Homo sapiens: one gene and its partner. The protein of the gene in region 1 interacts with the protein of each later gene in a biochemical or structural test. Each region holds a gene or a part of one and is shown on either strand. Other genes may lie near its edges. The genes, in order: KIF5A and DTNB.

What was found.
Region 2: the proteins of KIF5A (region 1) and DTNB form a complex in vitro, tested with the Homo sapiens proteins (one study listed by BioGRID).

What each region holds. Positions count from the first base shown.
Region 1 is NC_000012.12:57,570,516-57,574,326, forward strand, and holds part of KIF5A (kinesin heavy chain isoform 5A), read left to right. Parts: intron 1-805; coding exon 806-874; intron 875-1,545; coding exon 1,546-1,752; intron 1,753-2,064; coding exon 2,065-2,211; intron 2,212-3,811. UniProt on the Homo sapiens protein: Microtubule-dependent motor required for slow axonal transport of neurofilament proteins (NFH, NFM and NFL). Can induce formation of neurite-like membrane protrusions in non-neuronal cells in a ZFYVE27-dependent manner.
Region 2 is NC_000002.12:25,376,663-25,380,391, reverse strand, and holds the end of DTNB (dystrobrevin beta), read left to right. Parts: intron 1-1,068; coding exon 1,069-1,073; coding exon of another isoform or gene 1,074-1,102; intron 1,103-2,838; coding exon of another isoform or gene 2,839-3,062; 3' UTR 3,063-3,149; downstream 3,150-3,729.

The DNA of each region.
Region 1 (3,811 bases):
AGCCTCCAGAGTAGCTGGGATTACAGGCGCATGCCACCACGCCTGGCTAATTTTTGTATTTTTGGTAGAAACGGGGTTTCACCATGTTGGCTAGGCTGACCTCTGGCGATCCGCCCGCCTCGGCCCCCTGAAGTGCTTGGATTACAGGCGTGAGCCACCGTGCCCGGCCTGTATATGTAATTATACATCTGATTTTTTTCATTCAGCATTATATTATGCACAATTTCCTACTTCATTAATAATTCTTCATAAAAGTATTTTTATTTTCATTTATTATTATTATTTTGCTTTGAGAGAAAGAGTCTTGCTTTGTTACTCGGGCTGAAGTGCAGTGGTGCAGTAATAGCTCACTGCAACCTCAAACTCCTGGGCTCGAGGGATCCCCCCCAACCTCAGCCTCTGAAAGAGCTGGGACTACAGGTGCACACCACCACGCCCAGCTAATTTTTTTTTTTTTTTTTTTTTGGTAGAGTTGGAGTCTCACTTTGTTGCCCAGGCTGGTCTCAAACTCCTGGCCTCAAGCGATCCTCCCGCCTTGGCCTTTCAATGCGCTGGGATTAAAGGCATGCACCACCAGGCTAGCTAATATTTTAAATTTTTTGTAGAGACAGGGTCTCACTATGTTGCCCAGGTTGGCCTTGAACTCCTGGCTTCAACCGATCTTCCTGTAGGATATGGGGTTTCTAACTCAAAGCTTATACTATCTGGATTTTTATCAGGATCCTGCCTCTACCCCCAAACTTCTTACGTCTAAACTGGAAGGAGTAGCTTCCCTTCACCTGTCTTTCCCTGTTGCCTCCAACAGGATGATGAAATCAACCAACAAAGCCAACTCATAGAGAAGCTCAAGCAGCAAATGCTGGACCAGGAAGAGGTAATAGGAGGGAGGGCAGGACATGAGAGGAAAGGGGTTCTGTTCATCACTGGAAGGCATGGAATAGACCTTTTTAAAATCAGATGGAAGAAGGCGCTTTCTGCTTGGGGATTAATCACTCCCCTAAACAGCAGAAGTCTGGGAACCTCACTGGGGCTTTTCTTTTCTTTTCCTTTTTTCTTTTCTTTTTTTTTTTTAGAGATGGAGTCTCAATTTGTTACCTAGGCTGGAATGCAGTGGGGCAATCTCAGCTCACTGCAGCCTCGATCTTCCAGGGTCAAGCAGTCCTCCTGCCTCAGCCCCCTAAGTAGCTGGGACTACAAGTGCACCACCACACATGGCTAATTTTTGTAGAGATGGAGTTTTGCCATGTTACCCAGGCTGGTCTCGAACTCCTGAGCTCAGGCAATGTGCCCACCTAGGCCTCCCAAAGTGCTGGGATTACAGGCGTGAGCCACTGCGCCCGGCTGGGGCTTTTCTTAAAGCACAAATTTTAAAGTCTGGGGGCTTCTTCATTCTTCATTCTGTTGCCCTATTTCTATGAAACCTAAAGCCCACTTCCTCTTAACTCTTTATTTTGGGTAGGGTGGGGGCTCAGCTTCCCAGACCCAAGGCCATAGAAATGGTCACTGGCAGTGATCTTTCCCACATGCCACTCCTCTCCCTTGAAGCTGCTGGTGTCCACCCGAGGAGACAACGAGAAGGTCCAGCGGGAGCTGAGCCACCTGCAATCAGAGAACGATGCCGCTAAGGATGAGGTGAAGGAAGTGCTGCAGGCCCTGGAGGAGCTGGCTGTGAACTATGACCAGAAGTCCCAGGAGGTGGAGGAGAAGAGCCAGCAGAACCAGCTTCTGGTGGATGAGCTGTCTCAGAAGGTGGTAAGTGGTGTGCCAATGGTCCAACAGCTCCCTGACCACAGAACATCTCCCATGTCGAGGGGACCTCTGCATCCTTCCAGGGCTGTATGGTGGCTGCACCTCTGCACTGCTGTTCAGTGCATTGTGAGTCCCTCCCCAACCCTGTCACTGCACTTTCCCCTCACAGTCCCTCTGTCTTTCAGACTCTTCTGCAGGGCCTGTGTTCTCTTCATAGCAGCCCTCAGGGTCTTGCATGAAGGGAGAGGCCTCTGCCTGGGCTGGGCAAGGGAGCAGGAGGATGGCAACAGGAATGACCTGAGGGGCTGTCCCCAGGCCACCATGCTGTCCCTGGAGTCTGAGTTGCAGCGGCTACAGGAGGTCAGTGGACACCAGCGAAAACGAATTGCTGAGGTGCTGAACGGGCTGATGAAGGATCTGAGCGAGTTCAGTGTCATTGTGGGCAACGGGGAGATTAAGCTGGTGAGTGGTGAGAGACAGCAGCCTTGTTCAGGCTGGGCACTAGTGGAAGACGCAAGATGAGCCATCCAGGCCTTCACAGATACTGAGAAAGGCAGCCAGAGAGCCAGGAAACATGCCTTTGAACTAGACCCAGGAAGACAGGTAGAGGCTTGTATAGACCCAATTGAAAAGATACATTCTAGGTTGGGCGCAGTGGCTCACCGCTGTAATCCCAGCACTTTGGGAGGCCGAGGCAGGCGGATCACTTGAGGTCAGGAGTTCGAGACCTGACCTCGCCAACATGGCGAAACCCTGTCTCTACTAAAAATACAAAAATTAGCCAGGCGTGGTGATGTGCACCTGTAATTCCAGCTACTCAGGAGACTGAGGCAGGAGAATCGCTTCAACCTGGGAGGTAGAGGTTGCAGTGAACTGAGATCACACCACTGCACTCTAGCCTGGGTTATAGAGTGAGACTCTGCCTTAAAAACAAAACAAAACAAAACTAAATTCTAACGGGTGCTGAATAAAGAAGCAATGGAGGCCAGGCATGGTGGTTCATGCCTGTAATCCCAACATTTTGGGAGGCTGAGACAGGCGGATCGCTTGAGCCCAGGAGTTCACGACCAGCCTGGGTGACATAGTGAAACCCTATCTCTACAAAAAATACAAACGATTAGCTGGGGGTGGTGGCACACACCTATAGTACCAGCTACTTGACAGGCTGAGGTGGGAGAATCACCTGAGTATGGGAGGTTGAGGCTGCAGTGAGACATGATTGAGCTACTGCAATCCAGCCTGGGTGACAGAGCCAGACCTTGTCTTAAAAAAAAAAAAAAAGAGGCTGTACATGGTGGCTCACGCCTGTAATCCCAGCACTTTGGGAGGACGAGGCGGGTGGATCACCTGAGGTCAGGAGTTCGAGACCAGCCTGTTCAACATGGAGAAACTCCGTGTCTACTAAAAATATAAAATTAGCCGGGTGTGGTGGCTCATGCCTGTAATCCCAGCTACTCACGTGGCTGAGGCAGGGGAATCGCTTGAACCTGGAGGCGGAGGTTGCAGTGAGCCGAGATTGCACCATTGCACTCCAGCCTGGGCAACAAGAGTGAAACTCCGTCTCAAAAAAAAAAAAAAAAAAATTTGGGAGGCCGAGGCGAGGTCAGGAGATTGAGACCATCCTGGCTAACACAGTGAAACCCTGTCTCTACTAAAAAAATACAAAAAATTAGCCAGGCATGGTGGCGGGCGCCTGTAGTCCCAGCTACTCAGGAGGCTGAGGCAGGAGAATGGCGTGAACCTGGGAGGCGGAGCTTGCAGTGAGCAGAGATGCGGCACTGCACTCCAGCCTGGGTGACAGAGGGAGACTCTGTCTCAAAAAAAAAAAAAAAAAGCAGCAGCAACAGAGCAGTGCTTGCAGTAGGAGTTAGAGGTGGGGCATAGGCACAGAGTTCAGAATGAAATATGCAAATCTGTGGATGTGAGAATAATCTGGGTGATCAAGGAGATCAAAAGAAAATCATGTTGCTTTATAAGATTTATTTGTAAGTGGGGGACTGTCAGAATTGGATTTTTTTTTTTTTTTGAGATGGAGTCTTGCTCTGTTGCCCAGGCTGGAGTG
Region 2 (3,729 bases), on another chromosome or scaffold:
ACATGGGCATTTTTATAAGACTAAGTGTTTTTATGGGTGGACCTCCTGATTCTCTGCCATGAGCTAGGCCTGAGATTTTACAGACCTAGGACTAACTGCAGTCACCTGGACACCAGAGATCTGTAACTGTCAACCGTAAAGAGAGAGAGTATATTTGCTTCTTTGGGGTTGAAACCATACTGACGTAATATAAACAGAATTTGGTCAGCACCATCAGGCAAACATAGTCTGCTCGATAAGGAAACTGTGAGAGTCAAATGGAACTTTTGAAGAATCTAGACCAAGCTGAACTTCCCTGCCATATTCACCCCTGCCTCACGCCTCTCCCTGTTCACCCCTGGCTGGCTGGCTGCATCCTGGGGAATGCTTCTGCTCCATCGGGGTACCCTTCCTCCTCTGCATCTCCTCAAGAGAAGTGTAACCAAGACACATAGAAGAAGCACAGACTAACACACCTTCCCCCATAGTACATCATCTCCACCCTCCACAGCCTCATGTTATGCTCCTGTGTCCTTCACAGTCTCCCCTCCCATACCCTGCCATCCCGGTGTGGGGGCTGTAAATCCAGTTTGCATCCATAAAGAGCCCTGGTGCAAGGCTGGACAGCAATGGCCCTCAGAGAACAGAACAGGCTCAGGAGGGGCCAGGCAGTGCTCGAGCCTCGGGTGAGCAAGCGCAGGGCTTTTCAAAGCAGACCATCTGCAGGAGGGGGACCGCCCTCACTCAAGGCGCAGTCATGTTCCCTTGGGGAACTTTCAGAGCTGAGTGGGCTTTGCCCCCCTCATGTAACTGCTCCCTGGATTTAAGGAGTTTTGATTCCATTTTTTAATGACTTTCCTTCTCCTGAGAAGCATCTGTCTCCATGGCTGCCTCGGGTTGGCTACAGTAGTAGAAAGTATGACTCTACCCTGCTGTCATACCTGGGTGGGAAAAGTCAACAAACGAGTAACGGGAGAAGCAAGGAAGCCCCTGGGGTGGGTTGGTCAGGGAAGCCCCTTTGAGATAGTCTGGGGCATGAGAAGACCTGGCCGTGACCTCAGTGTGTTGTTTCTGCCCATGCTGCCACAGGTTAGCAGAGGAGCCGGACACAGAGGAAGCTCAGGTGAGTACAAAGAGTCCTCTGCCTCCCCACGGCCCCTCCCTCCTTCCTCAGCATCTTCCCTTCCCCTCCCTTCCTGCAGTCACAGGTCCCTAGCCAGGGCAGTCCTAACAGGTGAAGATGCAAGAGCCCAACTGTCCCTTCCCTTTGCCCACCCCAGCCATGTGCCCTCCTTGCCCTGTTTCTAGGCTGTGTCCTGTCTTGCACAGCACTGTCTGCAGGCCTGGTCCTTGGGCATGGCCTGGTGTCCTCTGTGTTGGGATGGCATTGGCAGACCCGACACTGCTGGCTGAAACAGGGTGTGCTGAGCAAGGCCACCTCCCTGGGGAGCACTGCCTCCCATGCTCCTTTCCCACAGCCACTGCCCACTTCCTTCCTGGGATCCAAACCACAGCCAGTGCGTCCCTGGATTCTGTCACCCAGCACTGCACCGAATCACAGTCCCTGACCCACAGACATGTGATTCATGCAGGATCACACTGACTACAGGGCTGACCAAGCCGCTTCCCATGGTGCCCGGCCAAGCTGCACCTTCTCACTTCCTGAAGAAGCAATGCAGAAAAGTACGGACTGCTCCAGTGGCAGATGCTCATTGCCTTTAGGAATTAGTCATTCCCATTTTCCAGCTCAACACCTTAATTCTTTCTAGTCCCAGCACCAAGATATCAGACTTCTCCATTTTAAAATCTTGTCTTCCCTCCCCTCCTCCCACCCCCCCACCTCTTATATTTAAAAATTAGGCATCTTCCTCGAATAAAGAAGTCAGGGCCCTAGCTGCACAATCCAGAAAAGGGGTTTTTTCAGACCCTCCCAAGTCGTGTCATCCTGGAATAGCCTCTGGCCCTCTCTGCCCAACCGCGCCAGGCCATTGAAGGCCTCTGCCCGCTCCCCCGGGGCCCCTGCAGCCTCGGCCTGCGCTGACTCTGGATTGTGCGAGCTGAGGAGAGGGCAGCACCTGGGCCACGCACATTCTCTCGCTGCCCTGGAAATCACAGCGCCCCAGGGGCTTGGAGAGAGGCTTCTCCCTAAACTCACTGTGCACATTCAGGCAAGGCCCTTTCCCAAGCAAGCCTAGGCCGTGGCAGCCGAGGAGGGAAATCAGGAACTGACTCGCCCTGCAGGAGCCTGCCAGAGCCCCTCTCTCCCCGGGGCAGAAGGAACTGGGGTGCAAGGGAACGTGGCAGAGCCATGTGCCCCCACCGCCTTGTTGCACATGGAGGAAACCAATGCCCCACACCAGAAGCTCCATGCCAGAAGCAGAATTGGAGCCGGGTCTTCTGCCTCCTAATCCTGCGCTCTCTGACCCACATCAGGGGTGATGAGAAACACCAACAGCCGAGAGTTAAACTAAGAGTATAAAACTTGGGTGCCGCGGATTCATGGATGCCCAGGCCTGCGCTCTGCTGGCCGGGGGCTGAGGCTTCCTCCCTTTCCTCTTAGTATTCATCGGCACACCTCAGTCCTCCCTGCCCTTCTCCTGGGCCACAATTCTCCCCAAGAAATCACCCCATTCAAACCTTGCATTGTGAACCCAATTCTTTCTTCCACGGAAACACTTCCTGACCCTTAGGAATGATGGCAGAGGACCCTAGGTACCACCCTTCAGCCCAACGCTTGAAAGGCGCCCAGCATCCTAGCAGCCCCTCCCTGCAGGGCCTCCTGTTCACAGTAGATGTTAGCAGCTTTTGTCCTGAACCCTCAACAGTGCCCGTGACTAACGGTGAGTGTGTCTTGCGCAGGCACAGAGGACGAGGAGCAAGCTGGCGCCGACATGGCGAAGGCAAGGTCTTCCCCCAGAGGCACATTCCTCTCCATCTTTCCACCGCACACCTGGACCAGGCTTGCAGGCTGCCAGACGTCACTCCACCCGCCAGGGAGAGGGGAGCCAGAGCCGGTGGGAAGCGGGGAGGGGCTGCGTGGCACAGCTAGTGGGCCTCCCCCTGCACAGCCCTGCATGTACTAGCACCTTCATCACTCCCCTCAGGGCATGGTCTCATCTCCGCATCAGGAATTCACCTGGAGGTTGAAAAGAGAAAAGAAAAAGCACCAAGCTCTTGTGTGTTTGTGACCTGATGAAACACTTCCTGGCGTCTGGCCAGCACGTGGGGTGCTCCTGAACGTGGGGGCACAAGTTTCCTTATCTTTGACCTTTAAAAACCAACAGGTTTCTTCCAGCGTGCAAAGAAAGCGTCAGGCCTTGCTCGGCTCTGTAGACATTCACACCCTGGCCACGGTGCTAAAAATAGTCTCACACTGGTTAGGCTTCCGCCCGCCCCGTGTGATGCCGCCGCCTGCAGCCCGGGAGGGAGGGGCGGAGACCCAGCCGCGCGCCGCAGCCGGGCTGAGCCTCCTCGGAGAGGGCGGGAGGGTCTCTGCGCCGCGGACTCCGTGGCCGCCAGGGGGCGCGCCGCCGGGGGCGCTGCTCGCAGCCTCTCGCCTTAGGGGTCGATTGGGCTCGGGCACACGTGATCAAGTCCCGTTCCCGGTGATTTTCATTTATTTTTTCCTCCTCCCTGGGCTCCAGGATGTTATTTTTAGCAGAAGAACTGCTATAAATATTTATAAAGGGCAGTGACTGTAATGAAGCGAGAAGCCCCACAGCTGGCTCCCCAGCATCCCTCACCCACCTC